Linked DNA regions of Homo sapiens. The protein of the gene in region 2 interacts with the protein of the main gene of each other region in a biochemical or structural test. Each region holds a gene or a part of one and is shown on either strand. Other genes may lie near its edges.

Region 1 (11,362 bases), on a different chromosome or scaffold from region 2:
GTGAGAAGTATTTCAAAGTTAAAAACATAGGCACCAACCCTTCAACCAAATAATTTACAGGATTGTAAATGTGGTTTTAAAAAGCCTGGGAGGCTGGTTTGAGTGCTATCACTAACTCATTGTGGATAAAAGTTTTGTCCCTTTTCTGGGCTTCAGTTTCCTTCCTTGTGAAACAGGCAGCCAGGTCACACATCTAAGACCTCTTTCTATTCCTCCGAAGCTTCTGCTGTCTTAATGCCTCTGGGTAGGACGTGTTTGGTCTGTGCACAGAATGGAAGGAGACAATGCATTTAAGGCTATCAAACAAAATGGGGTAAGACCAAGAACAGCATTTCAAGACATTTCTCTTTTCGATACTGGATTATTTTACTGGCCAAATAGTGAAACGGACTCCCTTTGTCTCTTCGCCTATCCACAGTCCTAGGCACCCTACTTTCAAGCCCACCTTCTCCCTAACTCCTGATTCTCTTTCCTCTTAATTCTTGTGCAAAGCCCTTGCTTATGAGTTGACTGGTCATTTCCTCCAGTGATCTTGAATAGCATTTAAATCTTCTTCCAGTTCTCAAACTTTTCAAATGTAAGTTCCATTGGGGCAAGGGGTGGTGTGTTTTGCTTTGCTTTTTTTCTTTCCCTTCAAATACCACAGTAGGGACTCAGCATTAGGTTTAGTTGAGACTTCAAGGCAGATTCACACTTTTTGGCCTGTTCAAAATCATTCTGAGTTTTAGGAGGCAGGGCCAAGGGTGACTGTAAAGGACTTTTCTATTTAATGAGAGAGCTGAACCAGGTTATCTCTACGATTCCTTCCAGCTTTAACATTACTGGGTGGTATTTGCATGCTGTAAACCCAAGGCCCCAGGACAGATCAAGACCCCTAAATTTTGGAATCCAGAATAAGCAAAGTTTAACCTGGAGTAATTTTGGTATCTGTTCTCTATTTTAAGAAGCAAAAATGATTACCTATTTACTACTTGAAAAATCCACACATTGCAAGTCAGCTTGAATGTCATTTTCATAAGCAGAAACAACACATATTTTCTTCACTGCTCTGTCTCTGAGCCCTGAACACCGTAGAGGTTCAAATATTTTAAAGACTCCAAACAACTGAAAGGGACCAATCCAATCCAGTGTACGGCCTAAAGCAAAAGATTTCATTTTTCTAGGTCCCAGTTTTAGTTCACAAAGGGAGGATGAAAACACCAGTGTTTCTGTCAACTTGGTGTGCCTGACAACACAGAAAACAAGGTGTGTTCTATGATGAAACAAGTTTGGGAAACTTGAGCAAGAACAATGTGAATCTTGAAGGGGGTGAGGGTAGAAGAGTACAGAACATGGTGTGAACTTATATAAGGCAGTGAATTCCTCCCTATGTGGAGCACTTGCTGACATTAACAGTTTGCACAGTGACCCTATGTACCTAATGTCATAGGTACATACCCACTATCTTACAATAAAGGAATGCTCCTCACAGGGTTCAAACAATTTGCTCCATGTTTTGTGCAGTCAGTCCTGGGATGAGCCAGAGGGTCTAACCCCAAAGTCCATGGTACTAACCACTATGCTATGCTGCCATGGGGTCACTTTGGAATTTTGACAAATTCTTCAGGTGAGGAAAGTCCACATAGTATTTATATGTTGAGAGAGTAAGCAAGAGCTTCAAGCTGAGGTTGAAGGTTCGAGACTGGCGTCAATGAACTGAGGACACAAGGAATAAACATTCGGCAAGGCAAATTCCTACATCCCAAGGCAATCCTGTAGTAGGAAGTCCAGACCATTCATTGGCAGTAAAGGAGAAGACTAAGAGAAGTCTGAGAATAGAAAGACTTCAAAGTAAGTGATGCGCTCCTAGAATATAGGTAAGATAAACGAATCCCCTAGGGAGTCTTTTTTTTTTTTTTTTGAGACAGGGTCTTGCTCAGTCGCCCAGGTTATAGTGCCATTGCATGATAATGGCTCACTGTAGCCTCAACCTCCCAGGCTCAACTGATCCTCCTGCCTCTGCCTCTCAAGTAGCTGGGACTATAAGCCTGTGCCATCAGGTCCGGCTATTTTTTTTTCTATTTTTTGTGGAGACCAGGGTCTCACTTTGTTGCCCAGGCTGTTCCCAAACTCCTGGGCTCAAGCCATCCTCCCACCTCAGCCTCCCAAAGTGCTGGGATTACAGTCGTGAGCCATTGTGCCCTGCTGGAAGTCTTTTCAAAACAAAAACACTCACCCTGGGGAGAGGGTAGGCTTCTCAGAATGGATGGGGCACGGATGGACTTTATAAAGTTAGACATCTAATTAAAGGACTCTAGGTGATACTGATTCATGTTTCCAACTCCACTGTCAAACAACTGACTTGCAATGGGACAAAGCGTTCTCTTGGGAAAGACTTGGGGGATCTTTAAGTTGTGCAAAAGTAACAAGATTTTGGGAAACCACCCCCTCCAAACTCACCCCAAATCCTACCCACTCTTAAAAAAGTTCATCCTCAGGGTGCAGAGAACAGCATTACGCCTTCGAAAGGATCCAGGCCTCGAATCAAGACAGATCTGGGATCCCCGTCACTTAAGCTCTGAGAAATGTAAGGAAACCAGGAGTACAGTCTAACTTCCCTTTCAAGCGGATTAACCCTGATCAAGTTATTTGTTCACTTCTAAGCCTTAGTTTATTTATAGAAAAAGGATAGAATTTACTTTTGAAGTTATTACCTAAAAATTACTTCAGCACTGAGACCACAGCTGGGACTCGGATTAGTAAACTTTCTTCCCCTGGATCCTCCTGCCTCGGAAAGTCTCCTCAAACTTTCTACCGCCTCTCTCCTCTCCAAGCAGACACTTAGCTACTGGTAGTATGAAAAAGGCTTGTGAGTACTGAGTAGTTAGGATGAATACATTCCCTAACTGCAGTTAAAACCCGGAAACTAAGATAATTAGTTCCTCCAGGACTGCAAGACCTCTTGCCTCAATGTACCCCATTTTCCTTTTAAGTAAAACCACTTCCCAGCCAGCCTCTGAGGTTAAGAAAAAGATTAAGAATGTAAAACGGAGGGAAAAGATGCCGGATGCTTTGTTATGTGACAGCTCTCAGGCCACCTGTGAGGGTTGTCAGCCTGCACCCCTCAGAGGACCAAGCCAGAAGACAGTCAGTTTGCTCGGCTGCCTGGGATGAAGGGCCGGGGGCCTCAGAGGAAAAGGCAGACGAGGAAGCCACAGGAGTTTGGGGGTTGGAGCTGGAGGGTGTCAGGAAACTTGGAACCAGACAGGGAGAGGGTGTGGGTGGGTCCAGTCAAGTTTTTTCTTTTTGTTTGTTTTGGGAGGGAAAGAGAGAGGCCCTCGGGGGTGAGGAGGCTCCGCAGTTCTGCTACTAACTGAACCCGACCCCTCCTCCACTCCCCCAACCGATCTTAAAAATAGAAGACGTTTAATAACCATAGCTCGCAATTCTTGAGCACTTATTAAGTTAATGGTTAGCACTTAAACGAGCTCTTGTTATGGAAACACCAGCCAACTTTAGGCCCAGGGACTGATCTTAGGACCTGAGAAGAGAGGGCCGAATGCCTGGGCCCAGGAAAGGAGGGTGTGTCAGGGCACAGGGTGACAGGGACCAGGTCTGAGGCCTAGGAAGGCCAGGAACAGTGTGGGCCAAGCCGTCCGGAGAGCAGGGGGTCCAGGCCCTGCGTGGGTGGAAAGGCCCGCGGTGCTCCTACCTTTCAGCGAGGTCTCCACCAGGCGCAGGTAAAGCTGCGAGCTCTTGTTGCCGTGACTCATGCGCTGGGCTAACCCATTGCGCTGCAGGACGCACTCCTCAAACTGCACGACGTTCTGGTGGCGCCGCTTGAGGCTGGTGAGGGCCCAGAATTCAGCCAGCGCCAGCTCCACGTTCTCGGGGGCGTCGCAGCGGATCTTCTTGACCGCCACCCGGGCCCCGCTGCGCCCGGCCACTGCCTCATAAACCACGCCGTAGCTGCCGCGCCCGATCTCCGCCAACAGGCTGTAACGCGGCCGCGCGGACCCGCCACCGCCCTCAGGCCGTCGCCGCGCCAGGAAGGCCTCGCCCGGGGCCTCGGCCGCCACCGGATCCATGGCCCGGGCCGCCGCCGCCGGCCTCAGCTTCGTGCTGGGCGCCCGCGGCACTGGGCTTCGCCTTTTCCGCTCCGGGCTTTGTGTACCTCTGCGGGCGCCGTCCTTCCCCGTTTCCATGGCTGCGGGCGGCGGGGGGAGCAGCAACGGCGCTGCCCGGGCCCCCCCTGCCTCATCCCTCCGTCCGGCCCTGGGACGCGGAGGAGCCGGACCTTGGATTGTGACCTGCGGGCGAAAGAATCGGTTAAACGGCCAGGCCAAGGCGGGGAGGCCAGGAGCGTAGGCCGCGGGGCGTCCCACCTCCTCCTCCCCCGGCCGCCGCGGCCCCTTTAAGACGGAAGCCACCGCCGCTGATTGAACGGGGGAGGGGAGGGGAAAGCGGGAAAGACCGAACCACTGGGCAGCAGCTCAGAGGGGGAACCGGAAAGAAAAGCACAAACTCTCCGCTCTCTCTGTTAGCTTGTCATGTAGCGATAGGAAAAAGAAGAGCCAGCAAGCTTCACGCCTTCTGAAAACCGCTTAGAGACGCGATTTGGCCGGCGGAAATATTTTTCTTTGCTTGGCCCCCTCTGTGACGCTCCTCCCCGCGCCCCGCCTTGTGTTCGCCCGGGTGTAAACAGTCCATTGAATTAAGCCCTAGCGGAGCCCAGCGGACCGACCCAAGTCCCCGAGGGCGACGGGTAGAAGGGATTGGCTGAAAAGTTCGGCTTCTCGGAGTGCGACTGGCCGAGGACCCGATTTCCCTTCCCAAGCGCGGAGGCAGTGGCAGTAACTCCAGCCTCGGCGCTGGCCTTCAGTCCTCCAACGGCGCCCTTACCTGGCCCGCGCACCTCCACTTCCGGGCGGCCCGTTTCCCCCCTGGAGCCCCTGCCTGGGGATGGTCCGCTCCGGGCCCGGGCTGCCTCCGGGACCGAGCAGCGCGGGAGGTGGCGGCCCGAGCCCGGCGTGTAGCGGATCCTTCTGCTGCCGCGGCGCTCGCTGGGGAAGCCTGGGCTCCTAGGCTCCCGTGGCTTTCCACGTGTTCGCGCCAGCTGAGCCCTTTACATAACCTCTTTACATAAGCTGCACCTCCCGCCGGCGCCCGGGCCAGCGGAGACTCCTGGTGGCCCATCCCCCGGGACGCCAGCCGAGTGAGCCCTGCACCGCCCGGTCCTGCAAAGGTCGACGGAGCAGCCGCAGCCGAGCGCACCGGCACGCCTTGCCGGGACCCAATCACTGGCGAGAACACCCAGCCAACAAAAAATAGGCGCGAAATTCCCGTGATCCGCGGCGGGCTCCGGGTCTCCGCAGCGGCCCGCGCATCACTATCCCTTCTCGCCTGATCTGCGTGAAGACCAACCGTCCGCAGTAGGCGCCTAATAAATACTGACTGGGTGATTGTCTTGGTCGTTTGATTCATAGCTCTGTCCTGGGAACCTCAGGGACTGGGTTGGAATCCCGACCTTCCCTTCTACCAGCCCAGTGATCTTGTGCAAATCATTGACCCACCCTGAGCATCCGTTTATCTAATGATCCTCTGCAAAATGGATAGAATGGGCTTTAATTCCCAGGAATGATAGACCCAAATGAAATACCTAGATGGAGGCTAATTGGGTGTGGGGCTGTTAGTACCCAAAGCTCCCATTTAGGCACAGATTTTTGAATATTTTGTTCTGTATTTTGTATTCCAGTGTAGGCCTAGTGGGTGCCCAGTGTTTGTTAACTGAATCTACAGATGTTTATTGAACACCCGTAATGTGCTAGGCACCATTCCAAGTCGCTGGGGAAAGAGCAATAGACAAGGCAGTTTCTGCCTTGGTTGAGGTTCTGTGCCACTGCAGGAGACAAACCACATGGGTGGCCTTGGGCAAGTTAGTCAACCTTCTTGTGTATTTGTTCCTTACCTGTAAGAAGATCCACAGAGGTTATACAGGTAAAGCACTTAGGACAGCCTTGCACACAATGTTAAGTATTATTAAATAAATGCACAGGATAATTTTTGCCAGTGGTAAGTGTGATGGAGAAAAAGAATGAGCTAAAGAGTGCTCACTGGATACAGGCCATTTCTTATAATGTATTTGGTCGCTGAAAACCTCTTAACTTTTTTGTGATTAAATTTCAAATTTACACATAAATTTCAAGAATCGTAAAGATCATATACTTTTCCACTAGAATAACAAATTGTTATATTTTGCTGCATATCCATATCCTCTCGTGTATGTGTATATATACACACAAATACATATTGTGTGTGGATATCTATATGGTATATACCCCAAAAGAAAGGAAATCAGTATACGGTATATAGATATTCACACACACACATATATAATGTATATATTCTTTTTTACTACATCATTTTAGAGTTTCCAACATCAAACTCCTTTATCCTAAATATATGTGTGTGTTTCCTTAAAAAAAAGACATTATCTGGCATAATCTCAGTACAGTGGTCAAAAATCAGGAATTTTAACAATGATACAATTGTTTTATTTAATACACTCCATCCATATTTAAATTTTGCTAATGGTCCCAATAATGTCCTTTATAGCTATTCCCCAGGATCCAATTCAGGATCAGACGTTGCACTGAGTTGTCATGCCTCTTTAGTTTCTTTTAATCTGGAAGGGCAGTTAGTTATCCAGCCTTTCTTTGTCTTTCATGACCTTGACATTTTTGAAGAATACTGGCGAGTTATATTGTAGAATGTCCCTAAATTTTTATTCATCTGTGTTTTCTTATTAGTTTCAGAGTATCCATTTTTCTCTCCTCCCCCACCCCCCACCAACCCATCCCTTGCTATTCTGAGAGGGTATGCATTTTTTGGCAGGACTACTGCTGAAAAAAGTTGCCTCCTCAGGGCCTTTCATCAGGAGGCACATGGCATTGTGTTTGTCCCAGTATTCGTGGTGTTAACTTCCATCATTTGGTTGAGGTGGTGTAGGAGTAGTTACACTCTACCATAAAGTTACGATTTTTCCTTCTGTAACTATTAAGTATTCTGTGGGAAGATATTTTGAGACTATTTAAATATCCTCTTCTTTAGACTCTTACCCACTGGTTTCAGAATTCATGGTGATTCTTGCTTGAAACAATTATTACAGTTGCAAAATGGTGATCAGAAGGTCTTTTTAACCATAACCTTTTTTCTATTTCTGTGAAGAATGTCATTGGTATTTTGATAGGGATTGCATTGACTCTTTAGATTGCTTTGGGTAGTATGGACATTTTAACCAATGTTGATTCTTCCTATCCATGAACATGAAATATCTTTCCATTTTTTGTGTGTCCTCTTCAATTTCTTTAATCAGTGTTTTATAGTTTTCATTATAGAGATCTTTCATTTCTTTAAATTAATTCCTAGGTATTTTTATTTATGGCTATTGTAAATGGGATTACTTTTTAAATTTCTTTTTCAGATTGTTCACTGTTAACATATAGAAATGCTACTGATTTTTGTATGTTGATTTTGTATCCTGCAACTGTACGGAATTTGTTTATCAGTTCTAACAGTTTTTTGGTGGAGTCTTTAGGTTTTTCCAAATATAAGATATAATATGCAAACAAGGATAATTTAACTTTTTCCTTTCCTATTTGGATGCCCTTTATTTCTTTCTCTTGCCTGATTGCTCTAGCTAGTACTTCTAGTACTTCTAGTACTGTGTTGAATAACAGTGGTGAAAGTGGGCATCCTTGTTGTATTCCAGATCTTAAAGGCTTTCAGTTTTTCCCCATTCAGTATGGTACTAGCTGTGGGTTTGTCATATATGGCTTTTATTATGTGGGGGTATTTTCCTTCTATTCCCAGTTTTTTTTAGGGTTTTTATCATGAAACCATGTTGAATTTTATCAAATGCTTTTTCAGCATCAATTGAAATGATAGTATGGTTTTTGTCCTTCATTCCGACAGCCTTATTTTATCTTAATTACCTCTTTAAAGACCTTATCTTCAAATATAGGCACATTCTAAGGTACTGGGAATTATAACTTCAACATGAATTTGGAGTGAGGAGGGACACAATTCAGTCCATAATAGCCTCTTTGGCATTTGACATTTGAATTGAAACCTGAATGTCAAGAACCCAGCTCTGAAACCGAATGGGAAGTCATTCCAAGAAGAAAGAAGAACAAGTACAAAAGCCATGAGATGGATACAAGCTTGTGAAACCAGCCATGTGGTAAGATTTTAAAATGGTACAACCACTTTGGGAAAAAAAAAAAAAACCAGTTTGGCAGTTTCTTATAAAGTTAAATATATGTCTACCCTGTGGCCCAGCAATTCCATGGGTCTCAGGTAAATGAAAACTTCTGTTAATAAAGCAACTTGTATAGGAATTCACAGTGGCTTTTCCCATAAGAATTCCAAACTGGAAAATGCTGCAGTGTTCAGCAATAAATGAATGGATAAACAAATTGTGGTATTCCCATACAATGAAATGTTGCTGAGGGTGTGTTGATGGGGGGAGGAATAAAGTATTGATACAACAGCATGTATGAATCAAAATAATTATGCTGAGTGAAAGAGGCCAGGCACAAGAGAGTACCTGCTAGATGATTCTATATACAATTCTTAACAATACAAACTAATTTGTAGTGACAGAAAGCAGATCAGTAGTTGGGGTAGGAAGGGTGGATAGAAAACAAAAGGACATAAAACTTTTTGGGGTGATGGGTTATCTAGACTGTAGTAATAGTTTCAAGATAGGAATATATTAAAACACTTCAAATTGTACCCTTTATATTAGGTGTATTTATGTAAATCAGTTTTACAACTTAATAAAGCTATAAAAAAATTGGAAAAGAACACATACTATAATTCCATTAATATAAAGTCAACCAACAATAGTCTAGAGTGGCAGAAATCGTATCAGTGGTTGTTTTTCAGGTGGGAATTGATTGCTGAGGGCCACAGGGGAATTTTCTGGGTGATGGAATTTTATTGTGTGTAAATTGTACCACGACAAAGTTGAATTAAAACATAAAAAAAAAAAAAAAAAAGCCAAAACCCTGTAGCTGCGAACACTTGTGTCTTTACTTAGAAGTTTCTAAGGACAGAAGGCTGCATTGTGTGGCCCTGGCCCCATTCCTGTATCACTGGCTTCGTAGGTTTAGCACAGCCAGCAGTGTCTTTCCTCCTGGCTAGTTTTCCTATCTGATTTTGTTTTGTTTTGTTTTCTAATACACATATACATGTTTTTATTTTGTTTTTAGGCATCTTACCTATTTATCCATCTATTTGAGAGAGGGTCTTGCTCTGTTGCCCAAGCTTGGAGTGCAGTGGCATGATCATGGCACACTGCAGCCTTGACCTCCTGGGCTCAAGTGATCCTCCCACCTCAGCCTCCTGAGTAGCCGGGACTGTGGGCACATGCCACTAGGATTTTACCATGTTGCCCAGGCTGGTCTCGAACTCCTGGCTCAGCCATCCTCCCACCTTGGCCTCCCAGAGTGCTGGGATTACAGGCATGAGCCACTGCACCCGGCCTATTTACTTTTTATAATTCCAGCTTGTTTTTTTAGATTTTGGGGTACCTGTGCAGGTTTGTTACATGCATATATTGTGTGATGCTAAGGTTTGGGATACAGTTGAGCCCATCGTCCAGGTAATGAGCATAGTAACCAGTAGCTTTTCCACCCTTGCCCTTCCCTCCCCACCCTAGTAATACACAGTGTCTACTCCTGTCTTTATGTCCATGAGCACCCATTGTTTACTCCCACATATAAGTGAGAACATGCGGTATTTGGTTTTTGGTTTTCTGTTCCTGAGTTAATTTGCTTAGGATAATGGCCTCCAGCTGTATCCCCCACCTGAATTTTGAGAGAGATTGAATATGAAGTTCTGGGAGGACCACAAGGAGTGTGAATCCTTTTATATGCTGTTAAGAGGGCTGGACTGCTTGATAAATCATTTGATGCCTTGACCAAATTTTTAGTTTTTGTTTTTGTCTTGCTTAACTTATGGAAGTAACCTATACTTTACTGTTAGGACTAATAGCCAACATTTACTAAAGTTTTCTGTCTGCCAGGCACAGGGATTAACAAAGAATTACGACAATTCCATGAGGTAGTGACTTTCATTAGCCCCATTTTACAGATGAAGAAACCGAATGTGAAGCTGGCACAGCTGGGTTTCAAACTGAGGCCCCAGACACTCCACATCTCTTGATCGCACTCAGCCCCTCCCCAGGCTAAGCAGTGTAAACGTTACAGCGAGCCCTCTTCTACATCTTTCTTGTTGACAAACATGCCTGCCTCAGTATCCCTGGAACCTCAGACAGTACCAAACATCTGACTGAGCTCAATATTTAGTGATAGAAGAAATGTAGAAGAGAAGAGCAGCAGTGAGGTTTTTTGTTTGTTTTTTTAAATGGAGTCTCACTCTGTTGTCCAGGCTGGGGTGCAGTGGCATGATCTCGGCTCCCTGCAACCTCTACCTCCTGGATTCAAATGATTCTCCTCCTCAGCCTCCCGAGTAGCTGGGATTACTGACACCTGCCACCACACCTGGCTAATTTTGTGTGTGTGTGTGTGTTTTAGTAGAGATGGGGTTTCATCATATTGGCCAGGCTGGCCTCGAACTCCTGACCTCAAGTGATCCATCCACCTTGACCTCCCAAAGTGCTGAGATTTCAGGCGTGAGCCACCGTAACCGACCAAGCAGTGAGGTTTTCAGCCCTTTTAGCAGGCCAGGGATGCGGAAGGAAGTCCTTTCTCTGCTGAGCACAGAGAGCTGCATGGAATGTCACATCATTGGTTGTGCTCTCTACACTCAAGGAGTCGCTGACACTGGCTGAATAAAGCAATGGCTACACTTTTACTGTAAGAAAAGTCATTCATTTAACATTTTTTGAACCCTTACTCCTCTATGTGCAAGGCAGTTTGGGAGCTGATGTATGGGGATGAGCAGGAGAAAACTCAGTGTCTGCCTTGAGGGGCTGACACAGACAATATGACAGTGCAGTTATGCAGTCCCACATCACAGTAGACCCATTAGGGACCAGAAAGTAAACAAAAGATAGCAAGGGATGGAGGCTGGGCATGGTGACTCATGCCTGTAATCCCAGCACTTTGGGAGGCCGAGGCAGGCGGATCACCTGAGGTCAGGAGTTCGAGACCAGCCTGACCAACATGGAGAAACCCCGTCTCTACTAAAAATACAAAATTAGCCGGGCATGGTGGCACACACCTGTAATCTCAGCTACTCAGGAGGCTGAGGCACAGGAATCACTTGAACCCAGAAAGCAGAGGTGGCAGTAAGCTGAGATTGCACCATTGCACTACAGCCTGGGCAGCAAGAGCGAAACTCCGTCTCAAAAAAA
Region 2 (11,531 bases):
CACTCCAGCCTGGGGGACAGAGCGAGACTCTGTCTCAAAAAAAAGAAAAGAAGAAGGAAATTCTGTCATATATTACAACATGGGAAAACCTTGAGGACATTATGGTAATTGAAAAAAGACAAATGCATGACTCCAATTATATGAGATATCTAAAGTAATCAAACTTAGAAAGTATTATAGTGGTTGCTAGGGGCTTGAGAGATGGGGACTTTAAGGTGAGGTTGTTTTTCAATGGGTACAGAATTTCAGTTTTTCAGGATAAAAAAGTTCTAGAGATGTGTTGCACAACAATGTACACATAGTAAACATTACAATACACTTAAAAACGTTTAAGATCATAAATTTCATGTTTTTTAACACAATAAAAAAAGACAAACCCATAAAACAGAAAAAAAAGGAACAAACTATTGATACATAAACCTATCGATACAAAAACCTAAATAAATCTCCAGACAATATACTGAGTAGAAAAGCTAATCCCAGGTTACATACTGTATGATTCCATTAATATAACATTTTTGAAATAATAAAAATATAAAGAGTAGATAAGTAAGTTGCCAGGGGTTAAGGAGGATGAGGGAAAAGGAGGGAAGCGAGTGTGGCTATAAAAGAGCGACATGAGAAACCCTTGCAGAGATGGAAATGTTCAGTATCTTGAGTGTATTGATGTCAATATCCTAATTTTGTTACTATTGTGTTTTCAAGATGTTACCATTGAGGGAAATTGGTAAAGGGTATAGGGGATCTCTGTATTATTTCCTATAACTGCAAGTGAATCTACAATTATCTCAAAATAAAAATTTTAATTAATTTTAAGAAATATTTTCCCCAAATGGTGGAAGTTAAGTGCTAGCTGGAAATAATGTAGAGGAATACTTGTTTTTTATGTAGGTGGGGGAAAGGAGGTAGGCGGACCCAGAAAAATCTTTCCTATCTCATATCCCAAGAAATGAGATGTCCCAGCCTGATTACCCCAATGTTCACCCAAAAACGCCATTCTGGGAAACCCTATGTAATCATTTTCAGAAGGGAAGCCTGGCCTGTGTGCTTCCTAAGTTTTGGTCTTCAAAGGCACACATATTGGTCCTGCAATAAGAAACCAGAGGGGTAATTGTGGGCACCAGGAGAAGAGAGAGGAATGCCCGCACAGCAGAGCCAGTTTTCTGTGGGTGGCAGGCAGGTTTAGCTAGAGGGGCAAGCAGCCTTCATGATAGAGGTGTACTTCTGATTCAGCTCTGAAGAAGCCAGGGTTAACATCATCCTTGTGATAATATTTGAATAGAAAATGATGCATCCCTTTATTTCCAGGGCAGCTGCTTAGAAATCTCCCTCATGAATGTTTGGGGGCAACACCTTACAACACAATTTGGAAGAGCTATTATCTAGGGCCTAGTATGTTGGTTACAGGAGCTCTCCAATCATTCCTTGAAGAGAACACCACCACCCCATCAGTAAGCTGATTAGCTGTGTGGGCTGGCTGAATTTAATGGGCAAGAAAGAAGTGTACCATAAGCCACAGCAAAGTCTTCTCCATTACATTTGTCTATGTGCTTCCACACTTCTGTAGCCCCCAGTTCTCAGAAGTGATGGGGATGGAGTTCCTCATGGAAACTAAAGTTAGCAATAATTAGCATTTAGTGAGCACCTACCAGGGGCCAGGCACTGTGCTGAGTGCTCTGTGCACATCCCATTGCATTGTCTCAACAACCTGGTGGTAAAGAAGTTAGTATTATTTCCACCTTAGATCTCAGGAGACTGAGTTTCAGAGATGTTACATGGTTTTCCCAAGGTCACACAGCTAGTAAGAGGCAGAGCTGGAATTCAAGGCTCAGGCCCCTCTATCTACCAAGCCTTTAGGAAGTATCAGGCAGTATCATATAAACAATGAAATCTGGGCTCTGAATTTTCTGATTTTGACCAGGGTCCCCTCAACTCAATTAAAAGAGAACAGAGGAAAGGTGCTAGCTTTCTGCTGAACTGACATTTTCTTCGCCCACCTGGTACACAGTAGGCACTCAATAAATGATTATGCTGAACTGACCTAGAGGAAAAAGGCCACTGAGGACCTCCCCCTCCACTGTGTGCACTGGGAGGAAGGGCAGCAGAGAAACCCCCTCACCTGCCTTACCAGTTGGCAAGGCTATCTCTGTTCTTATCTGACTGGGACACAGCTCTGTAAAGACCTACAAGACAGATAGCAACAGACACACCACAATACTTTCAAGTGCATAGGACAAAGAAATCCAGGGCAAGCCCCAGAGAATGGGTGATGACCTCAGATGCAAAGTATGTAGTGAGCCAATTCTGGAACTTCAGCGAATTTCACAGACTAAACAGTGGGAGGGAGCGAGCACTTGGGACTTGTGCTGACTGAGCAAGCAAAGTTACCAGGTGACTGCTGGGCTCACAGGAGAATCTTTCTTTGTGGGAATGCACTAGAAATACACCAGCAAGCTGAGATCCCCCCATACAAGCAGCATGGCCAGTTAGGCAGCTCCTCTGCCTTAGGCTGTTGGTTTTCCCACTGTTTCTGGGTTCAGCCTCAAAGAGTGCGGGGTGGAACAGAAACAGGACCCTCTCTGCTGAGAAAATCTGCAAAGAGACAAATTTTGATACTCGGCAACTACTGCAGCCAAAGAGTCTGGGCCAGGGGCTAGAGGAAAGGCTTAAACAGCCACCTGGTAGTTTCAGACTCAGAGGAGGGAGCAGGCAGGGAACATGAGAGAAGAGAGACATTAATGAAGGAAAAATAGCCAAGGCCATACTAAAAATATTTCCCAGGCACATATTTCTCCCAATGCATAGCAGCTCTTTCAATTAAGGATGTGTCATTTCCTGGGTTACTAAGTCCAGATCATGGAATATTCCACTCTGGGACAGTAAAAGAGGGTCATGTTCTCAGCCTCCCCAGCACCAAAGCAGCTAAAAACAGGGATCACAGGCCCCCAGTGTTTCCACCACTCCTGAGCTGCTTGGAAGCTTCCTCTCAGGGTGTGTCTGTGGAAAGCCTAGGGGGACCAGTATGACACCGTTTCTCAGGTATCTCAAATGTCCCCACAGTCGCCTGGAAGAGAATCATCATCTCAAGCCAGTAAGCCCTTGCAAGAACCAGAATTTGAGGGAAGAAGAAACATTGGTGGAGACTGCCTTGGTTACTATGATAAATGGCCAGTAACCTTTAACATCTTCTAAAGCCAAAGTCACACAGAAAAAAGTCTGCCCTACCAGACTCAAAGAAATGTTAAAAGAAATCTTAGTGTCAGCTGGGCGCAGTGGCTCACGTCTGTAAGCCCAGCACTTTGGGAGGCCGAGGCAGGCAGATCACCTGAGGTCGGGAGTTTGAGACCAGCCTGATCAACATGGAGAAACCCCATCTATACTAAAAACACAAAATTATCCGGGCGTGGTGGCGCATGCCTGTAATCCCAGCTACTCGGGAGGCTGATGCAGAAGAATCGCTTGAACCCGGGAGGCGGAGGTTGTGGTGAGCAGAGATCACTCCATTGCACTCTAGCCTAGGCAACAAGAGTGAAACTCCGTCTCAAAAAAAAAAAAAAAGAAAGAAAGAAATCTTAGTGTCCTCTCAGTGTCAGGCACAGGGAACAGGGATGCACATGTCATGGGTGTCCAATGACATCTGTCTCTCTCTGGGGAGGGGAGGGGTGACTATATGCAAGGAATGCCCAAGGAGCCCTTGAGAGGTGTTGCTACAACAGCCCTTTCCAAACATTTAAGTAGTTTGGAACCTCTAGTATCTTAACCTCTCTCAACCTGCATTTGAAGCCATTGGTTTGCAATTTAATTACCCTAAGAGTTGAGCAGGTTCTTGTTAAAGGTGAATTGGGGAGAAACTGAATGGCAAAGCGGGCTTCAGAGGCAATACAAAAATTGATGATTCCAAGTGAGAAAGGTTCTCAGAGCTAAGGCAAGTTTGGACCACACAGTGTTTTCCAACAAAATTTAAATGTCACCAATAATTAAAAATCAGGAGATTTCCGAAAAAAAGAGGCTTTCCAACTTCTGTTTTAATGGAAATAATTAGCAGAAATGAGACCTGCATGAGGCACGTGGCTGGAGCCAAGGAGCAGCGTCCCCTCCGGACCAGGAATGCACGCTCCAGCTGCCACCCCCACCCCCACCCAGCACCCTTGTTTACTCAGAGCTCTGCCTCAGTTCCTCATCCTGCCTGCCACTTTTGGGTATTTGAGTGGGCAATTCCTAACCTAGTCCACCCACTTTACACCTACAGAGAATTGGCCCCATCTTTAACCCATCCTCAAACCCAGTTCCTTTGCTGGGATTCCCAGTGTTTCTGGATTCATCCTCAAAGAGCCTGAGATGGAGCAGACACTGGGCCCCTCTGCTGGCAAGATCCAGGAGACTCCAATAAAGACTCAAAGGGCTTGGTGGCTCATGCCTGTAATCCCGGAAATTTGGGAGTCTGAGGTGGGAGGATCACTTGGGCCCAGGAGTTCGAGACCAGCCTGGGCAACACAGTGAGACCCCAATCTCTACAAAAAAAAGTAAAACTTAGCCAAGTGTGGTGGCACACACCTGTAGTACCAGCTACTCAGGAGGCTGAGGTGGGAGGATCACTTGAACCCAGGAGGTCGAGGCTGCAGTGAGCTGTGATCAAACCACTGTACTCCAGCCTGGGTGACAGAGCGAAAGCTTGTCTCAAAAAAAAAAAAAAAAGACTCAAAGGCAGCTGCAGCCAGATGATCTGTGACAGAAGAGGACATGCCTCCTCAGTCCCCAGCAAGGCACTTCCTCAGACACCTCTCCCCTTTCCACCTGCAGCCCTACCTCTCCCCCAGTTAAGCCTGCCTCTGTCCCCAGATCAGAACCTATTCCTAGGACAAGCATTTATATCCTCAGGGACCTCTCTTCTTTCATGACCTCTGGTCCACTCTAGGGAAAAAGCAAACACTGCTTCACCAAAACTATGCAGCATGAAGTATTTCTCCCTTGCTTAGTTCAGATGGTGGACATAAGCACAGGCTACTCTAGATTCCCTCAAACACTCCCCGACTAATAATACTGAAGAATTTCTCGGGAAGCAGCAGGCCTGTCAAGGAAGGACTATGTTCAATTAGAAGATGATGACCACAGAAATCAAAACACAAATAAAAACAGTTCTGGAGGATTAAGTGATTTGTTTGTGCTTAACACAATGCTGGGCATTTTACGTATTAATTCTTACTTTTACAGACACCCTATAAAGCAGGAGGTATTGTCCCCTTTGTGTAGATGAAGAAAATGAACACAGAAGTGTTCTGCTAATGTAGTCATTTTTCTCCCTGGAGTAGTGGCTCTTGCACCTGCCTGGGCAGCCCTGGTCCTGATGTGAAAAGCCCCTCCCAGGAGCGGCTCAGAGGAGGACTCCTGGGCTACTTACGGTCTGCTGTTCGCCTCCACCCCGCTGGCAGCAGTCTTTGACTCCAGGGCATTGTTGAAGTTGGAGATATTTTCAGAAGAGTAGAGGCCAGCTGGGTTGTTGTACTGGTTTGTGATGACCCTGGCAGTAGTGCTGGAGGCAGGCGAGGCGGTAAAGGGCATGGCACTTCGGTTGTGGGCGCTTCCTATGTGCAGGACCTCCTGCAGGCAGGGATCAGAGGAGAAATCAAGGGGGGCATCCAATGCAAACCCCTTGATGGGCAGTGCAGGCTGAGCGCCAGGGAGAGGTGTTCCAGCTGCTAAGATGGCCCTAGTTCAACCCAAACTTTAGCTGAGGGACACTGACACACCCACTGAGACACACGGGCAATGACTGGGGAAGTTTCCCACAATGGGCACCTGTGCGAGTTCACACCCCCTGAATCATCTCTACCTTCTGATTCTTCCTTGAGGCCCAGCAAAGCCTGCCCTCTAAGGCACCCTCGGGCAGGACAGCCCTTGATGCTTTGGGCTGTAAGATTCAAGTCAGAGCTAAAACACGCTTTCAGGGCACATACCAAAGAGATTAAAGCACTAGGTGAAGAGAAATATGCAGTCACTTTGGTCAGTGCAAAAGCAGGAGATGATAAAAGGTGGAGATAAATTCTCCATAAGTGAGCAAGTTAGACAAGCAAGGTAAGAGGGTGTGGTGTCACAGGGGAAGCAGCTGCTGACTAGGCAGAGATGGTCTCAGTCTCCTGCAGAGCAAGGGTAAAGGAAATTAAGGATCTATTGTTTCTTCTGGGAGAAAGACAAGGCTAATCAGATAGAAGGTCGGGGATACCTGTTACAGGGGCGGTACCCAGCAGAGCTGCAGAAAAGGACTTTTGAGTTCCTTGTGTTCTCATTCCCCTCTTTCTGTAATTTGAGAAAGTTCCCTCCACCCCCACCCTAGACTTGTTAAGAGTCAGGTGAATAATTACTACAGCTACAACATCTCAGAGCTCCTTTACAAACCCGCAAAGCCACTTTGGAAATTAACATTCCTGTTTTCTAAAACTACAGCTTTTCTACTTTTTCTTTCCCTCCTGCCAGCATCACAGCTTTTCTGATAGCCCAATCAGCAAGGTCCTTTCTATATGGGTGTCTGGACAACCCATGGCTTCTAGGTGATGCATGCTCTGTGCAGCCAGCTGAACTCAAAATGTGTCTTAGTGTCTGTGTTTTCCAGAAAAATCTTCCTGAACTCTAGTCTCTTTCTTAAAACACCCAGGCCCAGAACAGCTGCCTCCAAAAGAGTTCCTGTCATCTGTTGCACTTCCTTTTTTCTCTCCTTTTTTGTTAAATATTCAAGTCTTTTATGCTTTCTTAAAAAAAAAAAATCATGAAAACTAAAAGCTTTATTGAGTACCTAATTTAAAATAAAAGAAAACAACCTGAAAATATTTTTATGTTTAAGACTTCTCTTTTGGGCCGAGCGTGGTGGCTCACGCCTGTAATCCCAGCACTTTGGGAGGCCGAGGCGGGCGGATCACCTGAGGTCCGGAGTTCAAGACCAGCCTGACCAACATGGAGAAACCTCATCTCTACTAAAAATACAAAAATTAGCCAGACATGGTGGCGCATGCCTGTAATCCCAGCTACTCGGGAGGCTGAGGCAGGAGAATCTCTTGAACCCAGGAGGCAGAGGTTGCGGTGAGCCGAGATTGTACCATTGCACCCCAGCCTGGGCAACGAGAGTGGAACTCTGTCAAAAAAAAAAAAAAAAAAAAAAAAAAAGATTTCTCTTTTGGCTGGGTGCAGTGGCTCACGCCTGTAATCCCAACACTTTGGGAGTCCAAATCAGGAGGATTGCTTGAGCCTAGGAGTTCGAAACCAGCCTGGGCAACATAGTAAGACCCCATCCGTAAAAAAAAGTTAGACAGTCAAGTAGCCTGTAGTCCCAGCTACTTGAGAGGGCTGAGGCAGGAGGATCATGTAAGCCCATGAGATGGAGGATGCAGTGTGCCATATCGTGCCACTGCACATCAGCCTGGGTGACAGAGCTAGACTCTCATCCCTAAAAAAACAAAACAGGCCAGGCACGGTGGCTCATTCCTGTAATCGCAGCACTTTGGAAAGCCAACGCAAGAGGATCACCTGAGTTCAGGAATTCAAGACCAGCCTGGCCAACATGGTGAAACCTCGTTTCTACTAAAATATAAAAATTAGCTAGGCGTGGTGGCACCTGCCTGTAATCCCAGCTACTCAGAGGCTGAGGCAAGAAAATCACTTGAACTCAGGAGGCAGAGGTTGCAGTGAGCCAAGACTGCACCATTGCACTCCAGCCTGGGTGACAGAGCAAGACTCCATCTCACAAATAAAAAATAAAAATAAATAACAAAAAATAAAAAACAACACAAAACTTCAGCAGTTATCAAAGAGTAGTTAAGTAAATTTTATGGCACAGCTACCCAAATAAATAATATATAGTAATTAAAGGCTATGGTCATGAAGACAGAGATTTACAGATGGGTGGCCTGGTACCCTTGCCTACATGTGCCGCAGCCAGGATGGTCATTCTTTCTTCTTCTCTCCATCACCATGGCAATTCCTAGGAGCAGCAGAGGATGCAGAGCCCCAAGGAAGGGTCTTTATTTTTCCGCCTTGGCTCAATTTTTCCCTGCAATTTCCTGTTTGGCAAGGAATACCCCTCTAAGCCCATTTTTCATCTTTAAAATGAAGAAGATAAAGCCTTCTTTACAAGGATTTGTGTGAGTTACTAGAGTGTCAAGTACAGTGCCTGGCTCGTGGCACATATTCAACCAGGGTCTGTTCCCTTCTCCCTCCACCGAAACACATTTCCAATTAGAATGGAAGTCAATGGAAAATTCAGGTTGAAAATTCGGATGATTTCACTTTCTAAAGAATCTTTCAAGAATGCATCTGGTTTGTACATAAAAGGAATATCTCTACCCTCATCTGAATACTGACTGGTCTTTCCAGAAAGCAGGCAGATTCAGGGCTTGCCTTTTAGAAGGGATGATGTAATTGTTTGGGCTTTGTATTTATCAGTCTCCAAGGAAACTCAATAATGAGGAAGTACAAACTAGGTGTGTAACTATGCTGACCTCAGATAAGCTGGGGTGTTGGTTGGCATTACATGAACCAACAGATCTTTTTATTATAGATGAACTCTGCTCTTACTCATTTATCCTCTACTTTAGAATGGCTGGAAGTAAAAGACTGGAAAAATGATGGGTGAGAAGTTTTTCTTACAGTAATAAAGCATTACTAGAATCACAAGAAAAATACAAGGGTTTAAAGTATTTGAGAATTTTTGTAATCTGAAGAGAACTACCTTCAAAAGATTAATACAGGTAACTACAGATTTAAAATGAAAATTCAAATATACTACAAATGAAAACTATAACTGAAATTTACATAATTACCTTATTTACATGAAAATGAGGATTTCAGATAGACCAAGTTAAAACGAAATCATTCCTTGTGTGTTATAAAATATGTAAAAATTAAAATTTAACAATTAAAATTTAACATTTATGGTAAATTTAATGAAGTAGCTGAGAACTCCCAAGGAAACTGAAACTAACTGTGGCATGTTTTAAATTAGTTTGCACAACTGCCAGTGTATAGACCAAGTGCCATTTTACGAACTTTCCTGAGAGGAGTTGTATAGAAGAATATGTTCACATCAGTTTTGAAATGATGCAAAATGATCCTTAAAATGACTCTTGGGATTTTTAATAATTATTTTTACTATCTTAATGGCAAAAATTTTATGTGACTTCGTTTTTGAAATTTTAATGGATTCTATTTGAGAAAATATGACTTATATCCAACCACCCAATTAACACACACTAATATACCAAGTGAGTTCAACTTCATACAAGTTTCTGTTTTATGTATAAAAGATAGCTAGCTATATATTGTATTTTAATTACATCTTAATTCACCATAAAAACTAAATAGTATCCCAAATTTAGAAAAATAAGTTAAATTTCAAATCTTCAACTTGGGTCAAATGCATAACCATCACAAACCAGTGTAAAATTTTCAAAAGGCATTATCAACATACCTAGTTTATCATTACTAATTCATTAATGTATCCAACAGACACATACTTTGAGACAAGTAGCATGTTGGGTGTGAGGAATTTTACAAAAGATGTTCTAAACATCTCTAAGTTTGTCCCTTATTTCAAAAACAATACCCATGCCTTGTAGATTATTTAGAAGAGGCACATAAGGCAGAAAGAAATAAAATCACCTACAATCCAATAATCCAACTACTGAGAGATTTATTCACAAATATGGGATCTTAGGGCAGTCTACTGTCCTGAGAAATTCTATCTGGGTGACAAATTGTACACTATGTACTGCTTTTTTTTATATTAATTGCTGCTTTATTTTAGTAATTTTAAAGTCTCACTAGAAGTTTCACTGTAACAAAAATAGAGATTTCCACTCCATGGCTCATGGAAACCAGACAGGGGCATACAGTGGGGAGAAGCAGGGCTTCCTATTACATATTCCCCGATTTCTTCTAGGCTCTAGGCCTCCAGACCTAAACTTATTTTCATCCCTGTCATGATTCATTTGTTGCTGAAATCCATAACGAGCTGAATAGCTCCTTGACTTCACTGTGATCCTGCCAACCCTTCCCACGCAGGAAGGCTTCCACCGGCTTCCCTTATCGCCTTCCGACCCCCTGCTTCCAGCCCAGGACACAGCGTCACTGCCCTGGGGTTTTCCAGCCCTATCCTCCTGCAGTTCCCTTACGGGAAGAACTGAACAAGAGCCAGATACCAGCAGAGACAGTGAAGGGTCTTATCCCCAGGCCTCCAGGGCAGGAAAAACAGGAATGTGCTGAGCAGTGTCAGAAACGGCAAAGTGCTGGGTGGTGAGAGCAGCGGCAACGATGAGCAAGAACTTACCTGGGGTTCAGAGGCTAAATTCATCTTGTATGGATGACGCTTCCCTTCCTCCGTCACCAGAGGAGACCAGACTTTATGTTCAGATCTGCAACAGATTAACAAAGCTGCTGTTTCACTCATGTAAAATAAATAATATATACCAAAGACAAACTGGAAAAATGCCCCCTCTTTCCTGGACTAGGCACTGAACTAGCACCCTCCCATCAGCTCTACCTTCCATTTGCCACCAGGTTGATCTTTTAAACACCCCAATCTGATAACATCCATGGCTGATGGCTCCCCAGCATAGCCCCAAGGGGCTTCCCAAGCACTTCATCCTCCCTCACCACACTCTGGGTAGCTGACACCAGCAGTGTGGTCTCCTCCATGTTCCTAAGCATGACTCACACTGCCCTATCTCTGCTCAGGATAGAATGGGCTTCTCCTCTATCTCAACCCAGTGTGTTTGGTCCAGACCAAATAACCAACTTATTTGTGAAGCCTGTTTGACCCAAATGAAAATAATGCCTCTTGGCCGGGCGTGGTGGCTCACGCCTGTAATCCCAGCACTTTGGGAGGCTGAGGTGGGGAAATCACTTGAGGTCTGGAGTTTGACATCAGCCTGGCCAACATGGTGAAACCCCATCTCCACTAAAAATACAAAAATTAGCCGGGTGTGGTGGCATACGCCTATAATCCCAGCTACTCGGGAGGCTGAGGCAGGAGACTTGCTTAAACCCAGGAGGCAGAGGTTGCAGTGAGCTGAGATAGCACCACTGCACTTCAGCCTGGGTGACAGAGTGAGACTCCATCCCAAAAAAAAAAAAAAAAGAGAAGAACGCCCCTCTTTTGCTCTTATAAACTATTTTCTTTGTACCAACCACAGAGCAATGATTTTACTTTAGTCTCAGTTTTCATTAGTGTCGTTGTTTCCTCTCTTGCAGGTAGAAAATATTTATACTTATCTTTATTTATTTTATTTATTTATTTTTTGAGACAGAGTCTCGCTCTGTCGCCCAGGCTGGAGTGCAATGAATGGCGTGATCTTGGCTCACTGCAACCTCCGCTTCCCAGGCTCAAGCGATTCTCCCAGCCCAGTCTCCCGAGTAGCTGAGATTACAGGCACCTGCCATCATCCCTAGCTAATTTTTTTGTGTTTTTGTAGAAACAGGGTTTCATCATGTTGGCCAGGCTGGTCTTGAACTCCTAACCTCAGGTGATCTACCCACCTCGGCCTCCC

What was found.
Region 1: the proteins of PDLIM1 (region 2) and STK35 form a complex in vitro, tested with the Homo sapiens proteins (one study listed by BioGRID).

The regions. Positions count from the first base shown.
Region 1 is NC_000020.11:2,095,695-2,107,056, reverse strand, and holds the start of STK35 (serine/threonine-protein kinase 35), read right to left. Parts: upstream 5,231-11,362; 5' UTR 5,176-5,230; coding exon 4,882-5,175; intron 4,290-4,881; coding exon 3,692-4,289; intron 1-3,691.
Region 2 is NC_000010.11:95,258,466-95,269,996, forward strand, and holds part of PDLIM1 (PDZ and LIM domain protein 1), read right to left. Parts: intron 10,398-11,531; coding exon 10,313-10,397; intron 5,599-10,312; coding exon 5,399-5,598; intron 1-5,398. UniProt on the Homo sapiens protein: Cytoskeletal protein that may act as an adapter that brings other proteins (like kinases) to the cytoskeleton. Involved in assembly, disassembly and directioning of stress fibers in fibroblasts.